7 linked regions of the Homo sapiens genome follow. The protein of the gene in region 5 purifies or fractionates together with the protein of the main gene of each other region. This does not show direct contact. Each region holds a gene or a part of one and is shown on either strand. Other genes may lie near its edges.

What was found.
Region 1: the proteins of FBXL12 (region 5) and ASTN2 purify together in Homo sapiens (affinity purification with mass spectrometry, with the first as the bait; one study listed by BioGRID). This does not show direct contact.
Region 2: the proteins of FBXL12 (region 5) and HGH1 purify together in Homo sapiens (affinity purification with mass spectrometry, with the first as the bait; one study listed by BioGRID). This does not show direct contact.
Region 3: the proteins of FBXL12 (region 5) and TTC27 purify together in Homo sapiens (affinity purification with mass spectrometry, with the first as the bait; one study listed by BioGRID). This does not show direct contact.
Region 4: the proteins of FBXL12 (region 5) and ANXA2 purify together in Homo sapiens (affinity purification with mass spectrometry, with the first as the bait; one study listed by BioGRID). This does not show direct contact.
Region 6: the proteins of FBXL12 (region 5) and ALDH3A2 purify together in Homo sapiens (affinity purification with western blotting; one study listed by BioGRID). This does not show direct contact.
Region 7: the proteins of FBXL12 (region 5) and CAPN1 purify together in Homo sapiens (affinity purification with mass spectrometry, with the first as the bait; one study listed by BioGRID). This does not show direct contact.

Annotation. Positions count from the first base shown.
Region 1 is NC_000009.12:117,405,058-117,408,557, reverse strand, and holds part of ASTN2 (astrotactin-2 isoform g precursor), read left to right. Parts: intron 1-3,500. UniProt on the Homo sapiens protein: Mediates recycling of the neuronal cell adhesion molecule ASTN1 to the anterior pole of the cell membrane in migrating neurons. Promotes ASTN1 internalization and intracellular transport of endocytosed ASTN1.
Region 2 is NC_000008.11:144,136,402-144,140,573, forward strand, and holds the start of HGH1 (protein HGH1 homolog), read left to right. Parts: upstream 1-1,372; 5' UTR 1,373-1,434; coding exon 1,435-2,027; intron 2,028-2,105; coding exon 2,106-2,206; intron 2,207-2,313; coding exon 2,314-2,412; intron 2,413-2,607; coding exon 2,608-2,699; intron 2,700-2,787; coding exon 2,788-2,910; intron 2,911-2,986; coding exon 2,987-3,151; 3' UTR 3,152-4,172.
Region 3 is NC_000002.12:32,666,050-32,669,549, reverse strand, and holds part of TTC27 (tetratricopeptide repeat protein 27), read right to left. Parts: intron 2,916-3,500; coding exon 2,782-2,915; intron 1-2,781.
Region 4 is NC_000015.10:60,349,819-60,352,986, reverse strand, and holds part of ANXA2 (annexin A2), read left to right. Parts: intron 1-510; coding exon 511-604; intron 605-1,167; coding exon 1,168-1,263; intron 1,264-1,735; coding exon 1,736-1,794; intron 1,795-3,168. UniProt on the Homo sapiens protein: Calcium-regulated membrane-binding protein whose affinity for calcium is greatly enhanced by anionic phospholipids. It binds two calcium ions with high affinity. May be involved in heat-stress response.
Region 5 is NC_000019.10:9,809,770-9,812,924, forward strand, and holds the end of FBXL12 (F-box/LRR-repeat protein 12), read right to left. Parts: intron 1,949-3,155; coding exon 1,127-1,948; 3' UTR 501-1,126; downstream 1-500. UniProt on the Homo sapiens protein: Substrate-recognition component of the SCF (SKP1-CUL1-F-box protein)-type E3 ubiquitin ligase complex.
Region 6 is NC_000017.11:19,651,751-19,655,250, reverse strand, and holds part of ALDH3A2 (aldehyde dehydrogenase family 3 member A2), read right to left. Parts: coding exon 3,473-3,500; intron 2,705-3,472; coding exon 2,619-2,704; intron 1-2,618.
Region 7 is NC_000011.10:65,184,928-65,188,427, reverse strand, and holds part of CAPN1 (calpain-1 catalytic subunit), read right to left. Parts: intron 2,512-3,500; coding exon 2,378-2,511; intron 2,259-2,377; coding exon 2,090-2,258; intron 1,214-2,089; coding exon 1,130-1,213; intron 474-1,129; coding exon 388-473; intron 15-387; coding exon 1-14. UniProt on the Homo sapiens protein: Calcium-regulated non-lysosomal thiol-protease which catalyzes limited proteolysis of substrates involved in cytoskeletal remodeling and signal transduction. Proteolytically cleaves CTBP1 at 'Asn-375', 'Gly-387' and 'His-409'.

The sequences.
Region 1 (3,500 bases), on a different chromosome or scaffold from region 5:
CTTCTCACCTCCTTGCTTTGTTATACACTAAGCCTTGTTTGCCATAGGCCATTGTGAATATGTGTGATGTGGGGAGAGGAGGATAGACTGACAGCGACCTCTTGAATGAAGTCTGGAAAACTGTCACCACAACCGTCGACTTTGATGGGCTCCCAGCATCACAGACTCACAAGGCATTGAATTCAACCCCTCTATTTTATATGGTAACACTGAGGCCTAGATAAGGGAAGAAACCTACCCTACAGTCCAAATTTAAGCCCAATTGTCTTGAAGCCCACACTGCCTCTTTCTATCACATTGCTGGGCCTCTCACAGAAGGCATTGGGTTTAAACATATCACAGATTCTACAAGTTAGTTCAGCATCATAAAGGGGGACACTCTTTCCTCTCCCCCTGCCAAAAAAAAAAAATCTACAAGGAAAAATCTCCTTAGGGAAATTGAATTGGTTTTCCTGCCTGAGTATCCAACTGATTGGCTCCAATCTATCCTAAGCACCTGGGCTGATGGGTTTTGTTCTGGGGCAGAAGGAAGCCTCACTGCCTCTCACCCTAGCTGCCTTTGGGGGTGGGTGGAGGAAATCTGCTCTTTTCAGGAAAGGAAAAAAAGAGTCGGGTTTAACCTTGGGGTGGAGCAGCATTAGAGGAGGCTTCCTTTCCAGAGCTGATACTCTCCCACGTTCTCATACTGACCAGCTAGTGGCAACAAAAGATTAACTATAGTGAGAGAGAGAGAGCTGGTTTTTCTTTCCTTGCAATGGAGCAGACAGCCTCTCTGCCCCCAGAAAGAGGCAGGCAGCAATGCTCAATGAGAGTTGTTCTATTTTCTAGCACTTGTTCTCTCCTTTCACTGGCTTTTCTCTACTGACTATAGCTCTTTTGGACAATAGCCCCCCAAAAGAACTCCCTTTTGAATGGAAAAGGAGTGGGTGATGACTACACAATGCAAGATTCAAAACTGAAATATGTGTAGCTTTCTTACTAGCATACTGGAATATGTAAGCATCCAAGTCTGTGAGTTGAAATTTGACAAGCATGTTGTAGGTTACAAACTATGAAGGGAAACTACTTCTTCATCCCCAGCACTGCAGTCACTGTCAAGGTCAGGCCTCAACACTTCTCTCTACTACAATTACAACAGTCAACGCACTGATCTGTCTACCTCTAGTCTTATCCCCTCTAATCCATCCTCCGTACTTGCAGACAAAGTGATTTTATTAAAAGCCCAAATCTGATAATGGCCATCCTCTTGTAAAGCACTTCACTGCTTCCCCATTGTTCTGAAGGTGTTGAATTTCCCTCTCCCTATTGTAGTAGTACAAGGTCCCTGATCACACTCTGCCAGATTGTCCTTTACTAAGAACCCTTCCTTCTTATTTGGCACCTCTACCTCACCATCCCCTGGGGAAATTCCTTCTTGCTTTTCAAGACCGAATTCAGGTGTCAACTTATTTTTGAAGCCTTTTCTGACCCCTCTGCACCAGAGTTGAACACTCTGAGCCTTGGTGCCCACTATCAATAAAGACTGCTATAATCATAGCCAGGCCCTTTGAATCACTGAGCACCAGTGATGTGAGAGTCACTGTTCTATGTGCCTAGGATACATCAGAGAACAAAAGACAAAGATCTCTGCATTCAGAGAGCTTTTATCCCTCTGTGTTGTGTGTGTGTGTGTGTGTGTGTGTGTGTGTGTGTGTGTGTGTTAGGGGACAATGACAACAGACATAATAAGTAAATAAGTTATGTAGTATGTGAGAAGATGAAAAATTCTATGGAAAAGGGAAAAAACTAAGGGAAAAGAGAATCGAGAGTTCTGAGATAAGGAGACGGGTTTTAATATTAAATAGGATAGAATGAGAAGAGCTTATTGAGAATGTGAGATTGGAACAAAGGCTAAAAGAAGGGGAAGGAGTTAGCCAAGCAGCATCTAGGAAAAGCACATTCCAGGCGGAGAACAGCTCCTAGCTAGATAATCCTAGCTGATTATCTAGCTTAGGAGCACACCTGGACCTTTCAAGGGACAGCATGAAGGTCGGTGTGGCTGGAATGCAGTGAACAAGTGGTGGTGGAGGAGGGGGGTGGCAGGACAAGACGTCAGAGAAGAAAAGAACAGTCATGTAGGGCTGTACAGACTACTGTCAGGATTTGGGCTTTGACTCTGAGTGAAATCAAGAGCTCTGTAGAATTTTAAGCAAAACAGTGCCAAGGTCTGACTTATGTTTCAAAAGAATTCCCTACGCTGCTCTGTACAGGACCAACGATGGGTGCAGGAAAGCCTGAAGGAGTCTCTACTGATGAAAAGTAATGGTGGCTTGGAGCAGAGTGAGACCAGAATTTACGCTGTGTGTTTCCTCATGTGTCTCACGCTGTTTGCCTATGTACCCTGTGAGCAGCTAATGTACCTCCTTCATCTCTGGGGCTGTGGTGACTCACCCTTTACTTGGCACATTGTAGGTGTACAGGAGATCTTAGAGAACTAGAACTCTGTGTTTGCTAAGTGTCATCCCAGAATCCACAGTAGACAAAACTTGAGATGGGCTGAATTTGCACTACCCTGTTAAGAGTGAGCCTAAACACTATCCATCCCACAGAGCCTTCCCTCTTCTAAGCACCCATAGCCATTGCTGCTACCTTCTCCTGTCTCCTGATTATTTTGGGGTGATTGCAGGATGGCTAATGAGAACAATGTGATTAGAGGAAAGATCATTGTGTTTGGAGAAGACTCTGTCTTGAGCAGCTTGGAAACCAGGTAAATGATTAGAAACTTTGCATTGTAGCAAACGAAGAGACAATACAAGTTTCAGGGAAATGATACACCATGGTTCCAGGATTATCAAATATCAGAAATGGAAAAATTTAGGACATTATCTAACTGAAACACTTCTATATAAAGATGGGGAAATCAAGGTCACCAAGCCTGTGGTAAAGCAGATGCCAGATCCCAGATCTACTGACCCCTATGTGTTTTCCTTCCATCTTAGGGAAGGGCAGCTGGGAAACTGGGGACAGGAGGAGTTGGAATTCCAGAGTTGTAATGTAACTGGACTTTATCATCCTACATAGGATAGGCTATGAAAACCGTGACCATTTTATGTAACATGTACTATGTCCCAGGTGCCATGATGGTACATTTGTTATCTATTCTTTCTACAGTGCTGAAGGACAGATGTAGCTCATCCCATGTTATAGGGTGAGTTCTGAGGCTCAGAGGAGTGAAGGAACCTACCCAAGATCACACAGCTATTATACAGCTAAGCTCAGTCCAAATCCAGGTCTGCCTGGTTCCATAGTCTATGTTCTGTCTGCCTTGCATGCTGCATAGAACAAGAGATGCTCTCAACTTTTCATCTCTAGACTTTTTTACTTCTTATGTCATCCTCTTCTCATGACCAAGAAGCTGCAGGCGTTTCTTATATAGGAACTTCAGGTGTGACAGCCTCACAGGCCCAAGGGACTGAGCACCTTGTTCTGTGCTGCCAGGAGCTGACTTAGCAGCTCCCCAG
Region 2 (4,172 bases), on a different chromosome or scaffold from region 5:
AGAGGGGTTTCACCATGTTGGCCAGGCTGGTCTCAAACTGCTGACCTCAGGTGATCTACCTGCCTTGGCCTCCCAAAACGCTGGGATTATAGGCATGAGCTACCACACCTGGCCTAAGTACTGCTATCTTGAAGGAGGCAGACAGAAACCAAGCAGTCATGGGTGGCGGGTGGGCTGAGTCTCTGTAAGTTGCCCAGGGAAGATAGCTCTGACAAATAATTAGAAGTTGCCAGCCTTGTGTACAGCTGAGAAAAGAGCATTCCAGGCAGAAGAGACAGCAAGTGCAAAGACCCTGAGGCCAGAATGGCCACCAAAGTTGTTTGGTTCCGTGTCCTGAGCTACCAGCTTGGCAGATGGCTGGTGCCCAAAAAATGCTGGAGTGAGGGAATGCCCTTCTTTTGCCCTCCCTTCCTCCCAGTCTGTGTGTCTCTAGAAGGTTGCTGCTCCGCCCACAGTGGAGGACACGTGAAGAACTGGAGTCCTTTTCTGGGGCAGACTCCAATACTGGGACAGAGAAACTCTTCTGCCACGACCATGGAACTGGGAGGTCCCAGTGTCTTTCTTTCCCAACTGCTCTGAGAAAATCGGCCAGTGGCAGGTGGAAATGATATGGAGCCACAGAGCAGCAGGGCAGCAGAGAGGGAGAGCAATGGTAGGGTAGACAGTACAAGGCTCCAGAGAGCTCCTGGATAAAGCAGTGCCGGAAGCTGGCTCCCTCCAAACCTCCATTTACAAATTTTCTCTTCGTGCAAGTCAGTTTGAGTTGGGTTTGTCACTTGCGACTGAAGACGTCCTGACAAATGCCCCAAAGCTACCAGCTCAGAGATGCCCAGAGGCCTCTCCAAAGCTGCCTCCTCAGGTCCCCACTGGGGCCCTGTGTTGTCCTGTCCCTGGACGGCCTGAGCTTCTCGGTGGCCGTGCCAGCCTGGACAAGAGCAGGCCTTCCTTCCGAGAGGCCCGTGGCCACTCCCCCATTCAGCCCTTCTCTGACCCGACAGCCTAGTCGAGGAGCCGGGGCGCGGGCCTCAGACCCTCAGGGCCCACGAGAAGCCAGGGCCGGCTGACCAGGTTCGGCGTGGCCAGCGCCCAGTGGGAAGCACTGGCCGACCTAGCCGAGACTACATGGACGCTTCCAGCGAGTGTGGACGCGGCAGGCGGCCAAATCGCGCCGGGCCTCGGTCCCCATGGCTCGGGACATCACAGCGCTCAGTCTCCAACCTCCGCAGCTTCCGGCCAGACGCCGAGACCCATAACTCCCCGCGCGCGGCCTGGCCCCTCCCCTCCGCACGCCGGTCCCGCCCCTTGAGCCCAGTGCGCAGCCTCGGATTGGCCAGGGCGGCTTTCGCTCCTCTGGTGGGCGGGGTTGCGGGCCACACAGCGGACCCCTAAGCGGACCGCTGGCACCGGTCGGGTGGCAGCAGAGTGTCGCTCGACATGGGGGAGGCCGGGGCTGGCGCTGGCGCCTCGGGAGGGCCGGAGGCAAGCCCGGAGGCAGAGGTGGTGAAGCTGCTGCCCTTCCTGGCGCCGGGCGCGCGGGCGGACCTGCAGGCGGCGGCGGTGCGGCACGTGCTGGCGCTGACTGGCTGCGGACCCGGCCGCGCGCTGTTGGCGGGGCAGGCGGCGCTGCTGCAGGCGCTGATGGAGCTGGCGCCGGCCTCTGCCCCGGCCCGGGACGCCGCCCGCGCGCTCGTGAACTTGGCCGCCGACCCCGGCCTGCACGAGACATTGCTGGCGGCCGACCCCGGGCTGCCAGCGCGCCTGATGGGCCGCGCGTTGGACCCGCAGTGGCCCTGGGCCGAGGAGGCGGCCGCCGCGCTAGCCAACCTCAGTCGCGAGCCGGCGCCGTGTGCAGCGCTCATGGCGGCGCTGGCGGCCGCGGAGCCGGCAGACTCGGGCCTGGAGCGGCTGGTGCGCGCGCTGTGCACGCCCGGCTACAACGCCCGCGCGCCCCTGCACTACCTAGCGCCGCTGCTCTCCAACCTCAGCCAACGCCCTGCGGCGCGGGCCTTCCTACTGGACCCCGACAGGTGAAGCCCAGGGCGCCCGCGCGGGCGGGGAGGGGACGGAAGTTAGGGGGGACGGCCCTAAGTGACACCTCCCAACAGGTGCGTGGTCCAGCGGCTGCTGCCCCTTACCCAGTACCCCGACTCCTCTGTACGCAGGGGCGGGGTGGTGGGGACGCTGCGGAATTGCTGCTTCGAGCACCGTGAGTGGTGGGTGTGGCGGGGGTGCGTTGCCAGGTGTGGGGACTGGACTCCGGGGCTGCTCTGGACCAGTTTCCATTCCCGTCTCCCCACCCTCACCATCCCTCAGGACATCACGAGTGGTTGCTTGGACCTGAGGTGGACATTCTCCCCTTTTTGCTCCTGCCCTTGGCTGGGCCTGAGGATTTCTCCGAGGAAGAGATGGAACGTGAGTGGCTAGTGTGGAGCCTCAGAGTTGGCCGGAGAGGAGGGAGGCCAGTGGAGGGAGAGAGAGGTGTCCAGGCCACAGGCTCCTGAAACTTTGCAGCAGTGAGTTGCTGAGCACAGGTGGGACTTACACAGGCAGAGCCTGGCTCAGCTGCCCAGCCCAGGGACACAGTGGCTCCCACACACTCACCCCTAGGGCTGCCTGTCGACTTGCAGTACCTGCCACCAGACAAGCAGCGAGAACCTGATGCAGACATCCGCAAGATGCTTGTTGAAGCCATCATGCTGGTGAGCAGGAGCCCTGCTGCAATAAGCACCACCCCAACACACACACATGAGCATGCTGACATCTGGGTAACCTCTTCCACCTCCTCAGCTGACAGCCACAGCACCAGGTCGGCAGCAGGTGCGGGACCAGGGAGCCTACCTGATCCTTCGAGAGCTGCACAGCTGGGAGCCGGAGCCCGACGTGCGGACGGCTTGTGAGAAGCTCATCCAGGTTGGTGCAGGGTTGGAGAGGCTGGGGAAGGGGTGTCTGTAGCTGGCCAGCTGCTCACCTGCTTCCCGTCTGGCAGGTGCTTATTGGGGACGAGCCTGAACGTGGCATGGAAAACCTGCTGGAGGTGCAGGTGCCTGAGGATGTGGAGCAGCAGCTGCAGCAGCTGGATTGCAGGGAGCAGGAGCAGTTGGAGCGGGAGCTGGCCCCAGAGCCATGGGTGGAGAGGGCCACACCCACCTGAGGCCCCTGCAGCCGGACACCAGCTCCAGGGTCCCCTTTGCCAGGCTTTCTCAGACCAGGCCTTCCTGCAGCTGTCTGCAGGCCCCCTGGGTCCCCTTGTTCAGAGACTGTGCTCTTCTGAGAAGCAGAGCTACGCTTAGGCTCCAGTAAGGATTGGAGGCACTTTCCAGCCCTGTGCAGTGTTGCTACCAGCAAGAATGAAGGTTGTGCAGAGCAGTACTGTGAGGTAGGCACCGTGACTCGGCTGCCTGTGCAGAAGGTGGAGGTGGCAGGCGGATGGCCAGGGAGCCATGAGAAGACTCTTCCTGGGCACGGCGTGGGGACTGGACAGAAAACCACTGCAAGCCCCAAGGAGCCAGCTGAAGCCTCCCAATCCCCAGGGCACTGCAGAGTCTGGGCAGAGGTGGGCGCATAGGTACAAGTGCTGCTTTGTCAGCCTCACTCCCTGCAGCTCTCAGCTCCCTGTTCCCTGAGACCTGGCCTCAAAGGGCTGACCCAGCCATACGTAGATCCTGGGGTCTTTCTAGGACTGTGCCTCCCTGCTTGACCTATGCTCCAGGACCCTGCCCTCAACCCTTGTCAGCTCCCTAAGTCTTCCTGTTTCCCAGTCTCAGATTGAGTGGGTGCTCTCATTGGCCTCTCTAGCTAGGCCGTCTCCCTGGTCAGCTTCCTTGAGCCTGGGCCACTCCTCCCTGGCCTTCTTACCTCTGCCAAGAGCCTCCAGATGTGCCTGCAGCCTAGTCCCTGCCCAAGCTTCTCCCCCAGCCACCCTCTGCCCCTGTGGTAGAGCCCACTATAGGCCCAGGCGCCTTACGTGCTTCTCCCCTGGACCTATGTGCATCCCTCACCTGCCAGTTATGTGGCTGCCAAGCCCCACAGGCTGTCATGGTGGCTCTTGCCACACTTCCCTTCCTGAGCTGACCTGACCTCACTGCCACCTCTTGCATTGGGATCCTGAGGGCTGGCCCCTGCTCACTGATGGGCCCTCCCAGGCCCGTCAAGCCCTGGTGAAGGAGCTTAGC
Region 3 (3,500 bases), on a different chromosome or scaffold from region 5:
GTAGTGTTCCTTTCCTTTTCCTGAAAAATGGTTATTAAACAGATGGTGTATATTACAATCTAATAATGTGTTTAACACAAGGTAATATGATATATAACCAACTTAACAATTCTCTTCCACCCATTAGAATAAAGCTATGTTTCTATCTAATCCATACCTACAGCATACAACTTGTACTCTCCATCTTCAAGTAGTAATTAACAAAGACCATAAGATTATCTGAATGTATTTTATTTCACATACAAAAGATTAAATTCTGGCCGGTGCAGTGGCTCATGCCTATAATCCCAACAGTTTTGGGAGGCTGAGGAAAGTGGATGGCTTGAGCCCAGAAGTTCGAGACCAGCCTGGGCAACACGGTGAAACCCCATCTCTACCAAAAATACAAAAATTAGCCAGTCTCATAACCTGGTCTCTAAATAGATAAACAGGTAAAATTTATTTTTTATTTATTGATTTATTTTTTTTTTTGAGATGGAGTCTCACTCTGTCGCCCAGCCTGGAGTGCAGTGGCACGATCTCAGCTCACTGCAAGCTCCGCCTCCCGGGTTCACGCCATTCTCCTGCCACAGACTCCGGAGTAGCTGGGACTACAGGCGCCTGCCACCACTCCCAGCTAATTCTTTGTATTTTTAGTAGAGACGGGGTTTCACTGTGTTAGCCAGGATGGTCTCCATCTCCTGACCTCATGATCCGTCCACCTCGGCCTCCCAAAGTGCTGGGATTACAGGCGTGAGCCACCACGCCCAGCCAAAATTTTTAAAATAAAATAATTCTGAAAAAATTTCTGATAGCCACATGTAATATATTAAAAATGTTAACCACATTAACCCTGTAACATGTATTACATGGTGAATCCCAGCACTTTGGGAGGTTGAGGCAAGAAGATTGCTTGAGCCCAGGAGTTTGAAACAAACCTGGGCAATATAGTGAGAACTCATCTCCATTTAAAAATGGAAGGAAGGAAGGAAGGAAGGAAGGAAGGAAGGGAGGGAGGGAGGGAGGGAGGGAGGAAGGGAAGAAAGAAGAAAAGGAGAAAAGAAAAGAAAGAACAAGCAAAAAAACGATTAAAATTCTGTATTAAATGGTACATCATTTTCATACATTTCTCATAATACTCATCATATCCTATTTATCACCAGGAGATAATTTTCTTTTCTTTTTTTTTTTTTTCAAAGGGAGTTTTGCTCTTGTTGCCCAGGCTGGAGTTCAATGATGCAATTGCACTCATTGCTCATTGTAGCCTCCACCTCCTGGGTTCAAGCAATTCTCCTGCCTCAACCTCCCAAGTAGCTGGGATTACAGGCACACACCACCACAACTGGCTAATTTTGTTTTTTTGTTTATTTTCTTTTTTTTGAGACGGAGTCTTGCTCTGTCACCCAGGCTGGAGTGCAGTGGCATGATCTCGGCTCACTGCAAGCTCCGTCTCCCAGATTCACGCCATTCTCCTGCCTCAGCCTCCTGAGTAGCTGGGACTACAGGCACCCGCCACCACGCCCGGTTAATTTTTTTTTTTTGTATTTTTAATAGAGACGGGGTTTCACCATGTTAGCCAGGATGGTCTCAATCTCCTGACCTCGTGCACCCACCTTGGCCTCCCAAAGTGCTGGGATTACAGGCGTGAGCCACTGCACCTGGCCTAATTTTGTATTTTTAATAGAGACAGGGTTTCACCATTTTGGTCAGACTGGGCTCGAACTCCTGACCTCAAGTGATCCACCCACTTCAGCCTCCCAAAGTGCTGGGATTACAGGCATGAGCCACCATGCCAGGTCAATCACTGGGAGATACTTTTCTATAGAACAACTCCACATTAAAAAACAACAAACACAGCCAGGTGTGGTGGCTCACGCCTGTAATCCCAGCACTTTGGGAGGCCGAGACGGGTGGATCACCTGAGGTTGCGAGTTCGAGACCAGCCTGACCAACATGGAGAAACCCTGTCTCTACCAAAAATACAAAATTAGCCGGGCGTGGTGGTGCATGCCTGTAATCCCAGCTACTCGGGAGGCTGAGGCAGGAGAATCGCTTAAACCCAGGAGGCGGAGGATGCATTGAGCCGAGATTACGCCACTACACTCCAGCCTGGGCAATAGAGTGAGACTCCATCTCAAAAAAAAAAAAAAAAAAAAGTAGTTGGGGGTTTCTGGGATCAGAAAACACATGCATAAATACTAAACGGCTTCATGGAAGCAGCTGGAGTGGACTATAATTAGGTAAACTGACCAAGAGTCATAATTCAAACTAAAGAAGAGAATTCACTAGACATGTCAAATAAACATACTAAGGCAACCACCCCCCCAATAATGACAGAGAAACAAAAGGCCGATCACAAAACTAGTGAAAAGGAATTCTGATAATGTTTATATATTTAGAAAAAGCCTAAGAGATTCCAAGAGAAGACAAACATAAGGAAACAAATATGATAGCAGATAGAGAAACTGGTCTACACCCAGTCTGCCTTTCGTATTTCTTCAAGAGGGGTAATACATAACTAACTGCATCATTAATTCATAGTTATTGAATCCTAGAAGAAAAACAGTATTTATCTCTATATACAGGTTAGGAAAAAAAAAACACCAGTTTTTTCTATCACAGGTTAGGAAAAAAAAACACCAGTTAAACACCAGTTCTCCCTGACTCAGCAACCTTTAAAAGGCAAAAGAAAGAATAAAATGAAGTCTGTCCCCAACCCATTCAGTGTTTCTATGGTACTCAGCTATTGAAATTCTTAGACTCAGGTGTTAATTGAATTTAATAACTTAATGTCCTACTTGCCTTGGTTAAATGTTCCTGAGGAGTGGGTGCTGGAGTGAATTCACAATTTGAAAGGACATCCCCTTCCCTTCTTACATCTAGAATCAGTTGTGCCACATAATTTTCCTGGAACCGTGTTCTTTTTCCCAAAGCACCTGAAAAAACAATAAAATTATATCTACTGACTTACCCATGAGATCTACTGTACAGTCATGAAGAGTAATATTTTCAGAGTGCTTTAGAGTTTACAAGGTATTTTCTCCATTTCACATAAGAAAGTCCTGAGGCCCAGCCTCAGGTTTTAAATGACTTATAAAATTAGAAAGCCAACAAGCTCTGGTACCAGGACTCAAACCCAGGATTTCTGCCACTACAGTCCACATACTAATTTTTGCATCAAACTACCACCCTTTAAAAAAAAAAAAAAAAAGTAACACATTGAGTGTTGTAGGTAGAAGAACTATTATTATCTCTTTTTCACAGATGACAGAAACAAAAGTTCTAAAGAATACAGTCATTTGTTCATGATCACAGGGCTTCTCAGCATCAGAACCAGAGCTTAAAGCCAGGATCTTTTGGTTCTATATCAACAGTTTATTACACTATCTGACTTCATGTAAGACCAAAATTTTTTCATTATGTCTCTGAAATAACTTACTGCAGAATAGCTGTTTTCAAACCACTTTAAGAAAAGCAAAAGTTCCAACATCCACTCTCTGGACAAGGTCAGATTACAAAGA
Region 4 (3,168 bases), on a different chromosome or scaffold from region 5:
ATTGTTAGGGCTACTTGTAGCCCCTAAATTTTCCAGAAACTGAAAGTGAGATGAGATGGGCTCCTTTTCCAGCTCCATCACTCCCTGAGTCTCTGAGAAGCTTGAGAATGAGAGCCTGGTCTGTAGCTGTCCAGTAAACATCTGCTAGCTTATCTGCCCCTAAATGTGCCCAAAGGGAGGAGGGCCAGATGTGTTAATGAACATTTACTTGTTCTTCTTTATATGAATACAAGCTCTTGGTCCCTCCTTTCTTATTCAAGGAAGGAGATTGTACAGCAGACCTCACGAACTATCTGCAGTCTCATATGGTATCCATCTGTGCCTAAGGAAGACTGCTTGTGATTAAGACTTTTGACCTAAATAGTAGGTCTCTGCCCATGTCTGCAGTATAATCATCTTTCCTCGTTTGGCATTTTGAATGTGTAGCTTTTTTTGTTTTTTTTGCATGACATTTTTTTTGACGTTACATTGGATGTGTAGTTAACTTTTCCTGGTTGGTTGTACTCGTAGGATCTCTATGACGCTGGAGTGAAGAGGAAAGGAACTGATGTTCCCAAGTGGATCAGCATCATGACCGAGCGGAGCGTGCCCCACCTCCAGAAAGGTGGGCACTGTGCTGAGGGAGTCTCAGTGCCTTGGGGCCCTGGCTGGGGCGGCTGGGTGGATGTCCATGTTGGGATGGAGTCTGCCAGAATGAGGTTCTGTCTCCGCTTGGCACTCTCATAGGCTCACCCATTTTCCCTCACCTTTCTCTCCCATTCTGGATTCTTTTCTCTTGCAAATAGTTTCTGCATTTGGTGCTTTATTCTGCAGCTCCTTCTTGTTTGATGATCATTTGGTCTTGCCATTATTTGTTGAAGTAGTGGACTTTGGTGCATGCTCTGTACTGTTTCCTATGGTTTTCGGATGGAATGGGTTCCACTCAGGGGAGATAGAGATGGTCCAAATATGTGGCCTGGGCAGTGCCATTCAGGACAGGTGGTATGGCTGTTCCACGACAAACTTGGCCAATGTTGGCTCTGGTCACCGTGGTAACCTCTAAGCTCCTAGGATGCTGTGATCATCCTCAATTTTTAAAAAAATTATGGTGCATAAAACTAGGTGGGTGATCGTTGACAGCTTTGACTAGTGGCTCGGATCTGATAACTCTTTGTTGTTTTTCCTCAGTATTTGATAGGTACAAGAGTTACAGCCCTTATGACATGTTGGAAAGCATCAGGAAAGAGGTTAAAGGAGACCTGGAAAATGCTTTCCTGAACCTGGGTAAGTGAATGTGGCCCCCATTCCTGGTAGACATCAGCTACCAGAGCAGAAGTGACAGATGGCCATCCTGTTAATCCAAATGTGTTTGGGAGGTGTGGCTTCTATGCATGCTTTGGATAGTTTTACAGTCTTAATTGTATAGATTTCAGAATATAAAACTGAAGAAAGGCCTAACTTGGTAACAGATTGTTGCCAGGGAGGAGTAAGAGAACAGGAGGAGAGAGGGGTGTGTTGTGGAAACTCACGTATGCACTTGGGTTCTGCAGGCCTCAGAGACCCCTGGTTTAAAACCGTGGTGGAACTTAGTATTGCAGAGGATTTCTAGATTTCCCTTAGCCTGTCCTATTTTGCAGCCCTTTTCCATTGCATTAGGTCACTTCTGGTTTGTGGCCCAGGGCCAGGGCATCCTCTCTCATTGGTAGAGGAGAGACCAGAGCAGCTGCAGCGCTGACTCCCTTTCTTCTCTCCACAGTTCAGTGCATTCAGAACAAGCCCCTGTATTTTGCTGATCGGCTGTATGACTCCATGAAGGTAAGGGCAGCTGGCTGAGAGAGCTGTGTTTCCACACTCAGCTTTTCTTCTTTTGGGTCCCAAATTGAGTCTCCTTGATTCATGGATGGAGGAAGGGGACCCCACTGTGTGGATGCAGGAACACACTAGTCAGCTGTGGTTGTATGTGACAGCTGAGAGAACCACAAATCTGTCTTCTTTCTCTCAGCTGCTTGAACATGTATTTGCGTACAGACAAAAAGTAAAGTGCCATGGGAGAGAGAAAATGCGACATGGTAGTCGTGTCTGATCCCTGCTTAGGTTTCTCCGTGATTTCTTCCTGTTACTGCCAGAGTCAAGACAAGCGAGGAAGGGAGCGATTATTAAGCACCCACTATACAGTGGACAAGTGCTACTATTTTACCTTAAATCATTGCATAACAACCTCTGAGGCTTATGATTATCTTCTTTATAAATGCAGAGATGGAGCTCAGAATACCTCAGCCTGCTTGAAGTTACACAGACAGATTTGAACCTGGGTCTATCAGACCCCAAAGACAGCCCCACAACCCTTCCCTAAACGAACCACCTCTTCCCGTAGACCCATCCCATTTTCTACACCTCAAGTGTGCCATGTGTTTTCTGGCTTCTAGGCTTTTGCATTTTCCTTCTGGAACATCTCCCTTGTCTGTGCTGCCTCTGCCATCTGTCTTTGAGTTCCATATCAAATAGCACCCCTTGGTGCCTTCGCTCTGATGCTCTGGAAGTAAACTCAGTGGTCTTTATTGCACATATCATTAGAAATGGCACAGAGCGATGATAGAAATGTGTTGGCATGTTCCCTCTAAGCCTGCAAGAGTCAGGAACCTCTTGTTACATATGGAGACTCAGACTGCTTGAACTGAGCCTTGCAGTAGTAGGTGCTCAGTATATATTTATTGAATGGTGGCATAGAGTGGGAGTCTGTGCTGACTACAGCCTGGTGTGTTTGGAATTCCCAGATGCTCTTCTTTCTTTTCTTTTCTTGTCTTGTCTTTTTTTTTCTTTCTTTTTTCCTCCCTCCCTCCCTGCCTTCCCCTGCCTCCCTGCCTTCCCCTCCCTCCCTGCCTTCCCCTCCCTCCCTGCCTTCCCCTCCCTCCCTGCCTTCCCCTCCCTCCCTGCCTTCCCCTGCCTCCCTGCCTTCCCCTCCCTCCCTGCCTTCCCCTGCCTCCCTGCCTTCCCCTCCCTCCCTGCCTTCCCCTGCCTCCCTGCCTTCCCCTCCCTCCCTGCCTTCCCCTGCCTCCCTGCCTTCCCCTGCCTCCCTGCCTTCCCCTGCCTCCCTGCCTTCCCCTGCCTCCCTGCCTTCTCCTGCCTCCTTGCCTTCCCCTGCCTCCCTGCCTTCACCTCCCTCCCTTTCCTTCCCCTCCCTCCCTTTCC
Region 5 (3,155 bases):
GCTCAGAGTCTCCAAAATTACAACATGGTGGCCGAGCGCAGTGGCTCACACCTGTAATTCCAGCACTTTGGGAGGCCGAGGTGAGCAGATCACGAGGTCAGGAGTTTGAGACCAGCCTGACCAACATGGTGAAACCCCATCTCTACTAAAGATACAAAAATTAGCTGGGCGTGGTGGCGGGTGCCTGTAATCCCAGCTACTTGGGAGGCTGAGGCAGGAGAATCACTTGAACCCGGGAGACGGAGGTTGCAGTGAGCCAAGATCGCACCACTGCACTCCAGCCTGGGTGACAGAGTGAGACTCTGTCCCCACACAAAAAAACTAAAGCATGGACTGGCTTACCTGTTTGTTGTCCTGTCTTCTCCTCTATGAGATCTACGAGGGCAGGGTCTTGTCAGTTTTGTTCACTGTGGTGGCCCAGTTTCCCAGAACCTAGAACAGTGCCTGCAAAATAGCAGAAGCTCAAGAAAGATTGGTTGAATGAATAAACTGAATACTTCTCGGGAAAAAAAAATGATTTTTTTCTTTAATAGTAAAATAATATACGTCTTGGAAAATACAGCATACAAAATACAGAAAATATAATTGAGCACTTTTATGAGCATATCGATCATTGAATCGCGAGTCTGCATCGCCTATCTCTCCGCGTCTCTTGCGTGCGTGTAGGTATATAAATGGTGTATAGGCTTGTGGGTGTGCATGCATAGACAGTCCTTCTTGGGTACTCATAAGGGGGCTCAGACCCTCAGGTGCCCCTGAGTCTTAACCCCACCCCTTCTTCATCCGTCCTGTTCCTGAAGACGACCATGAAGGTGACTCTTCATTGAGAGCCTCTGGAGGCTGGGAGCTTTTAGAGTAAGGCTTTGCAATGTAACCGTGAGGTAGCTATGATCATCCTTATTTCCAGATGTGGGAACTAGGCTTCCCAGAGGCTGATGATATGACCAAGGCCACACAGCTGGCAAACAGTGATTCCAATGGTCTGGAGGTCCCTAGGCCTCTGTTCTCTCAACCTGGGGCTTTCAGTTTCCTCAAGTCTGATTATCTGCCCTCTTCAAGGTGCTGCTCAGAGGGTCTGGGGCTCAATGATGAAAACTGGGATGGGTCCCAAGGGCAGGTGGAGTAGTTACATCCACCAGTCCATAGACTCTTTGGGGCAAGCCCTGACGATGACCATACAGTGGGGCAGCCCCTTACACAGGATCTTCTCCGCCTCCTGACCCTCCCACCCCAGCCCCTGCAGCTCAAGGACTCTGAGCTTGGGCATAGTGAGGCAGGAGGAGAGGATTTCAGTGGGGGAGGGCATTTCTGGGGTGACGAGGGGACCCTGCAGGCACAGACTCTCCAGGGCCGGCATTCCCTCCAGCACAGCCAGGCCAGGGGCAGAGAGGCCCCTCACGGTCAGCCGGATCTTGCGCACATCTCGGAGGTGGCGGCTGATGGCCAGCAGGGTGCTGTCGGCAGACAGGGTGCAGCCCAGCACCTCAAGCCTCTGCAGATAGCTGAGCTCCTGCAGGCCAGCATCCAGCCCTGTCTCGGTCACACGGTAGGTACCACCCAGCACCAGCGAGCGCAAGGCCCGGAAGCGCGTCAGGCCCTGCAGGTGCTCGTCACGGAAGGCGGGGACGCGGTCCAGCACGATGCATTCAAGCAGGGGCAGCACGGTGGGGTCCTGCTGCTTGTGGAGCCAGGCCATGGAGATCTCGCAGCTGTGCAGCTCCAGGGTCCTCAAGGTGCTGGGCAGGCTGGTGATGGGCACCATGCTCAGGTCGGCCACGTGCAGGCAGAGGCGCTTCAGGTTGGGGCACTTCTGGCCCAGGGCTCTCAACAGAGCAGGGGACAACTGGGGGGCCTGGGAGCCAGAGAACAGGTAGCCACCCATCCGCAGGGAATGGAGCCGGGATGCCATGTACCTTCGAAGGAGGTGCCACATGACTTTAGGTCGCATCTGTAAGAGCCAGAGATTGGGGTGACAGAGTGAGAGGTATGGAGCTTCCAAGGCCCCTGCTGGGCTGGAGACACACAACCCCGGGGTGGGGGATTCTGGTGCCCTGCTGGGCTTCTGCCCTTGCCTAGCCAGTCTCCTCCCCAGGTTCAACCTCCCCAGGTTCAACCAGATGGTTTGAGTGCACCATCTTGCCTGCTAGGGCTTTGAACAAATCTTTTTTTTTTTTTTTTTTTCTGAGACAGGTTCTTGCTCTGTCACCCAGTCTACAGTGCAGTGGTGAGATAATGGCTCACTGCAGCCTGGACCTCCTAGGCTCAAGTGATTCTCCCACTTCAGCTTCCCAAGTGGCTGGGACTTCTGACACATGCCCAGCTAATTTTTGTGATTTTTAGTAGAGATGAGGTCTTGCTATGTTGCCCAGGCTGGTCTCCAACTCCTGGATTCAAGCAATCCTCCCATCTCAGCCCCTCAAAGTGCTGGGTCTACAGTCGTGAGCCACTGCACTCGGCCACTTAGAATAAATCTGGTAGGGGCTGGGCACAGTGGCTCATGCCTGTAATCCCAGCACTTTGGGAGGCTGAGGTGGATGGATCATTTGAGGTCAGGAGTTTAATACCAGCCTGGCCAACATGGTGAAACCATGTTTCTACTAAAAATACAAAAATTAGCTGGGCGTGGTGGCAAGCACCTGTAATCCCAGCTACTCAAGAGGCTGAGGCAAGAGAATCACTTGAACCCAGGAGACAAAGGTTGCAGTGAGTCGATATCGCACCACTGCACTCCAGCCTGGGCGATAGAGTGAGACTCTGTCTCAAAAAAAAAAAAAAAAAAAAAAAAAGATAAATCTGGTAGGGGAAAAAAAGATACTAACAGAATCTATCTTTAGCAATAAATTTTTACCGTTTTTTCTGGACTAAGAAAAAGAGCAGAGCAACCCATTGATATTTTACCCCTTTCTTAATGATCACCTCCAGTAGAAATAAGCAACACAGAATAAAATTTTAAAAGCCGAAAACTACCCAGAGTAAATTAGGTCTATGTTAAAAAAAAAAAAAAAAAAACAACAAATGAAAAGGCTGGGCACGGTGGCTCACACCTGTAATCCCAGCACTTTGGGAGGCCAAGGCGGGCAGATCACCTGAGGTCAGGAGTTCAAGACCAGCCTGACCAACATGGAGAAACCCCGTCTCTACTAAAAATACAAAAT
Region 6 (3,500 bases), on a different chromosome or scaffold from region 5:
AACCAGAACTGGCCTCAATCCATCACAAGTTGATGTACAGAATACAGGTAAGATATTTTTAAGCTGTATTTCGCTTAAAGCTAAATGAAGACTCCTCCCTGTAGCAACTGCATGTAGAACTCAGCAGTGCCAATTTCTTCGCGGCATCATAACTTCCTCCCCAGGAAGGCATAAGAACCTCTGACTCAGACAGATGAACTACCCGCAGTTGGGCAGATCATTTTCTTTATTCAGTTCTTGATATTCTTAAATGCCAGCATGTTAAGTCAGTGTGAGGATCTGCCCTCTAGTTCAGGAGGGCACTTTTTGTGTATGTGTGGCATGTTTTCATGCCACAGACATGTCTTTTTTGAAAGCAGAAGTACTCTTATAGGCTGGGTGAGAGGTGAGAGCGTGCGGGCAACCCTTGCTCGCTCTCAGCACCTCCTTGGCCTTGGCACCCACTCTCGCCACGCTTGAGGAGCCCTTCAGCCCACAGCTGCACTGTGGGAGCCCCTCTCTGGGCTGGCCAAGGCTGGAGCCGGCTCCTTCTGCTTGTGGGAAGGTGTGGAGGGAGAGGCGCAGGCAGGAACCGGGGCTGCGCGTGGCGCTCACAAGCCAGAGCGAGTTCTGGGTGGGCGCAGGCTCAATGGGCCCCACACTCGGAGCAGCTGGCCGGCGCCGCCAGCCCTGGGCAATGAGGGGCTTAGCACCTGGGCCAGCTGCTGAGGAGGGTGCCCCGGGTCCCCCAGCAATGCCAGCCCACCAGCGCCACACTCGAATTCTCGCCGGGCCTCAGCCACCTCCCCGCAGGGCAGGGCTCGGGACCTGCAGCCCGCCATGCCCAAGGCCCCCACCCCGCCCCTGGTGGGTTCCCATGCTGCCCGAGCCTCCCTGATGGGCGCCGCCCCCTGCTCCACAGCGCCCAGTCCCATCGACCGCCCAAGGGCTGAGGGGTGCAGGCGCGCAGCGCTGGACTGATGGGCAGCTCCACCCACAGCCCCGGCGTGGGATCCACTAGGCAAAGCCAGCTGGGCTCCTGAGTCGGGTGGGGACTTAGAGAACTTTTATGTCTAGCCGGAGGATTGTATATGCACCAATCAGCACTCTGTGTCTAGCTTGGGGTTTGTGGATGCACCAATCAGCACTCTGTATCTAGCTAATCTGGTGGGGATTTGGAGAACTTTTATGTCTAGCTAGAGGATTGTAAAAGCACCAGTCAGCACTCTATGTCTAGCTCAAGGTTTGTAAATGCACCAATCAGTGCTCTGTGTCTAGCTAATCTAGTGGGGACTTGGAGAACTTTTATGTCTAGCTAGAGGATTGTAAATGCACCAATCAGCATTCTGTGTCTAGCTCAGGGATTGTAAACGCACCAATCAGCACCCTGTCAAAACGGACCAATCAGCTCTCTGTAAAATGGACCAATCAGCAGGATGCGGGTGGGGCCAGATAAGGGAATAAAAGCAGGCTGCCCAAGCCAGCAGCGGCAACCTGCTCGGGTCCCCTTTGACACTGTGGAAGCTTTGTTCTTTCAGTCTTTGCAATAAATCTTGCTGCTGCTGCTCACTCTGGGTCCGCACTGCCGTTATGAGCTGTAACACTCACTGCGAAGGTCTGCAGCTTCACTCCTGAGGCCAGCGAGACCACGAACCCACCGGGAGGAATGAACAACTCCAGACAGGAGGAACTAACAACTCCAGATGCGCCGCCTTAAGAGCTGTAACACTCACCACGAAGGTCTGCAGCTTCACTCCTGAAGCCAGCAAGACCACGAACCCACCAGAAGGAAGAAACTCCGAACATGTCCGAACATCAGAAGAAACAAACTCCGGACACACCATCTTTAAGAACTGTAACACTCACTGCAAGGGTCCGCGGCTTCATTCTTGAAGTCAGTGAGACCGAGAACCCACCAATTCCAGACACATGGGCATGGTGGCTCACACCTGTAATCCCAGCACTTTCGGAGGCCAAGCTGGGCGGATCACCTGAGGTCAGGAGCTCGAGACCAGCCTGACCAACACGGTGAAACCCCATCGCTACCAAAAATACAAAAACTAGCTGGGCATGGTGGCACACGTCTGTAATCCCAGCTACTTGGGAGGCTGAGGCAGAAGAATCGCTTGCACCCAGGAGGCAAAGGTTGCAGTGAGCCGAGATCACACCACAGCACTACAGCCTGGGTGACAGAGCAAGATTCCATCTCAAAAAAAAAAAAAAAGTACTCTTATATAATCACAGAAAAGTACATTTTGTTAGAACAAAAGAGATTGTTAGTAACAGAAATATGTCAGCACCCAGCACAGTACCAGTCCCTCATTAAATAATCCATTAAATGAAAACACCTAAAATCATGTTAGCTCAAAAATTAACCCCAAATCCCAGACAAACACAGAATCTGTTTGGCATGAAGCCATGGGCCTACATATATTGTGTAACCCCAAGAGCTGGGTGACTCCACACAAAATACACTCCGTGTATTTTGGAACCGAACTTCTTTTGCTAAGCCAACTGTTGAAGGCTTAAAGAGACTGCAATTGGGTCCCCGGCCAGCAATAACATGCAATAGCAAGAAAATAAAATGTGTGTTTTCCACAGTAAACACATATGTTGGAGATGAGTCAAGAAATTCTTACCTGGTCTAAATACTGAGGGAGAAGCTTTGCCAAGATCTTGGCTGTATTTTCACTCAGTTCAGAAGGCTTTATAATCACAGCATTTCCTAAATAAAGTAAAAAGTAGAACAGTATCATCTAATATTTAACTTTAATAGCTACCAAAATGATGTTCAGTGGGAAGAACAGGCTAGGTACTCCCAATTATTTCTGCAGCTCTCAATGCTGCATATCCTCATAATTAGCATAAGAGCTCATCTCACTTTCTCTTCTAAGGCTAACTCCTTAGCTGTCCTCATCTTCAGGTCACTGACAATGGGTTCCAGCAGCCTTTCCCACTCCTCCAGCTTTCTATCGCTTTTCTCCCACTTCTGCCCTTAGATTGTCCTCTCTGCCCTGGAATTATTGGGCAAGTGAGCCATTTCAACATACATCTCTCTATCTGGATCCTGCAAAGTGAGAAATTAATCTCCTGGCATTTGCTATATACCCAAGCTAGCATTACTCTCATAGTCTTTATTTGAATGAAGAAACTGGTCAGACAGAATCAAATGGTTCATCCGAAGCCAGAGCCAGCAACTGAAACCATATTAGAACATGGATGCCTGACTCCAAACTCCTGGGCCTGCTGACTCACACATCTTTACACTCCCACAGGTTCATTCCCCAGGTGCTTCAAAACATAGCCACACAAATCTCCTCAGCAGCCCATTTAAAAATATGTATGGTATGTATGAATTCTCAGTACACTGGTGGTGTAAACAAAGGCAAATCACCAAGTAAATGTATTTAATTAGCCACTATCCTTAATTTCCAATTAATATGAGAAAATAAGCCTCCCTAAAAAGGTATATAGACATAAGGTGGCACCAGACCTGCAGCGATGGCTCCTATCAGTGGCTG
Region 7 (3,500 bases), on a different chromosome or scaffold from region 5:
TCCACTCTGAGGAGCTGTGAGGAGCAGGGCTCTGCCAGGGCTGGTGGGCACTGACCTGCCTGGCCTCTGTCCCTGGGGCCTGTCTACCCTGGCCTGTCTTCCCCCGGCCCAGCCCAGGTGGCCTCCTCAAGGTCAAGCGCCAAGGTTCCGCTTCTAGGGGGTGGTCTCATCAGGGCCAGTCTGATGCCCTGCACACACCCGACGGCTGGGCACAGGGGCCCGCACGGCCTGAGCTTTGTCAGAGCAGTCCCCCAGACCCAGTCGCGCGAAGATGGGCCCCTCTGCTCAATCCTGAGTCCAGCCTGGCCTGGTAGAGTCCCGAGCAGAAATGTCGGGGCACCTAACAGTTTCCCCAAGGCACTCCAGACAGTGCCCACTGCCCCTCACCTGTCGCTCCAGGCTCCCGTCCACTCCACCTCGCCCCAGGGGTTCCGCATCCGGATCAGGCTCACCACCTGGCCTCGGTAGTTCACCTATTTGCCAGAGCTCCTGTCAGTGCTAGCTTCCAGCAGGCACTTTTTTTTTTTTTCTTTTTTGAGACAGAGTCTTGCTCTGTCACCCAGGCTGGAGTGCAGTGGTGCGATCTCAGCTCACTGCAACCTCCGCCTCCTGGGTTCAAGCAATTCAATTCTCTTGCCTCAGCCTCCCAAATAGCTGGAATTACAGGCACCTGCCACCACACCCAGGTAGTTTTTGTATTTTTAGTAGAGACAGAGTTTCACCATGTTGGCCAGGCTGGTCTCGAACTCCTGACCTCAGGTGATCTGCCCACCTCAGCCTCCCAAAGTGTTGGGATTACAGGTGTGAGCCAGTGCACCTGGCCCATGCACGCACTTTAACACTCCGCCTCCCATACCCTCATCCTCTCCAAGCCCTGCTCAGCACCCAGATGAAGCCTGTCCTCTTGGAATTCACAGCCCAGGCAGGCAGCTGCACACATGAACTACAGTCAGTCAGGGCAGGACATGATAGGCATCTCAGATGGGTGTCCCCAGAAGAGAGATAAGGTGCTGCAGGAGGGGAAAGGAGGAGCCAGCACCTTCCACAGCCCTGGTCAGGTGCCAGAGAGGCAAGGACAGGCCAGGGGGCAGGAACCGCCCTTCAGGGAAGGCCCCACCCAGGGCAGTACCTGCTTGGCCCCGGTCACAGAGTAGGCATGGCCCTTCACCAACTTCTTGAAAGTGATGGCCTCCATGTCTAGAACGCTGGAGATCTGCAGAAAGAGGCACACACTGTGGTCAGTGGCTAGGTCCCCCCGCCCTATCAGATGAGCCCCCAGCACTCAGGGTCTTGGACGTTCCCACTTGCACATACAACAGTTGCTAGGAGAAGCAAGCAGGGACCCCGATCCCACCTATAGACACCCCCACATATAGATGCTGCTCTTTTGGAGAGGGGTAGCCTGGGTACCCCACCAATGCTGCCACTGGGACAGGGGAGCCCAGGCACTCCGCTGACACTGCTACTGGCCAGGGCTGACCAGAACCTGTGCGAACATGCATGTGCACACACACAGCCGTGCACAGCCCACCAGAGCCACACAGCCCTCAGTGGGCCTCACGGAGAAGGACGTGAGGACAGAAGAGTCAGTTAGAAATGGGAATGGGAGCTGGGGTTAGAGCTGCGGATGGCAGTGATACTGGGGTCAAGTCTGGCGTTGAGGACTGGGGAGCGGAGTTGAGTGTGGGAACAGAGGAGCAGGGAAGGGTGGGAATGGAGTGAGTGTGGGATTGAGGCTAGGGATGGGTGGGAACTGAGACCAGGAGATGAAATCTGAGGCTGGTGAACTGGACAGAGGATGGCATGGATTGAGATGACAGGAATGAGGGAAACAGCATGGTAGACGGGAAAACAAGCACAGGAAAGAGCTGAGGTGTGAAGTTTTGGGGGAGGAGTGGGTAGGTGAGGACAGGAGCGACACCAGGCATGGGGGGTGGAAGTGATGGATGAGGCAGGGTATGCATCCAGAGATGAAGCTTAAGTGCAGGACAGGGTCTGGAGCGGAGCCTGGGTGGGGATTTTAGAAAATGTGACAGGTCAGGATACCAGGGTTCCAGGGTACCAAAGCATCGGGGCCGGGCACACTCACGTCTATGGAGCAGCCCAGCAGGGAGCCCCGCTCCAGCGCCTTGAGGATGATCTGGTAGAGGTCACTGGGAGCCTTGCGCAACTCGTACCACTCGGTAACCCCGCCTGTGAAGTCCTCAAAGCCCTCTGAGGTGCTGCCCCCTGACAGGGCCTCGTAGCTGCCATTTACCCTGTGGGCAGCTCCAGGTCAGCACTCTGGCATCAAGCAGGACCCTCTGAGAAGACAGTCATGAGCCCCCACCCCTAGGGGGAGCTGGAAGCTGGAGTTGCCCCCTCAGCCGCTACTCACTTGGCATAGGCCTTCTCAAGCAGGGCGCTCCAGAACTCGTTGCCTTCGGCAGAGTGCACGAACACTAGCTTCCCGTCCTTGATGGGCAGCAGGTCATCCACGACCACGTCCACCCACTCCCCAAATTGCCACAGCTGTGGGGGAGGGGCACGGTGAGTACCTGCTTTGGAATCCCCCGGACCTGAGCTCCATCCTTACCCCTACCTTCCTAGATGCAGGATTCTACATCCCAGATACATACTAGATACACATAGACTAAATCATGTAAATTAGATACATACTAGATGTATACTAGGTCAGGTATACCAGATACATAGTAGATGCATGTATACTAAATCACATATACTAGATACATACTAGATGCATGTGTACCTCTAGATACATGTATGCTACAGATATACTAGATACATGTATCTAGGTATTGAAGGAAATCAAAGTATTTCACCCTGAAATATACTTCTTCAACATATTTTGAGATAGCTGTTCAGAGGGTCTGCAAACAGAAGTAGCCCTGTAATACTGTCTTTTGTGGGGGAGATTTGCATCTGTAGAGAAAATCTGCATTGATGTAGCCAGGCTTTCTCTAAGGCCTTCCCTTGTCAGACTGAGAGCCTGACACCCTTTAAAGGTCTGAACGAAACAATTACCATCTATTCCCTCTGAGGGCTGCTACCTGTGAGGTTTCATCTACATAACAAGACTGCCTTTGCTACCCAGGCCCCCTTTTCTCCCCCTTCCATAGTCTGTCTTGCCACTATAACCTGATTTACCACCAGAAACTGGTTTTGGCCATGTTCGAGCCCCCATTCTTCCTGTAACCTCAGGATGGTATATAGGCTTCTGTACCCATTGTGGGGCTGGGGTGAACACTCTGTGGTTCCCGACCCCACGCTGCAGGCTAATCAATTTGTATGCCATTTCTCCTACTAACCTCCTTTTGTGAGTTGATTTTTCAGTGAACCTTCAGAGGGCTAAGGGGATGCTTTCCTTTGCCTGTACAATGTATACTAGATACCTGCATATTTGCTGTATACTAATACATGCATACCACATATAGACATGTGTATACTTGATATGTACATGTATGCTCGAGACATACTAGCTACATGATCCTGGAAAAGTT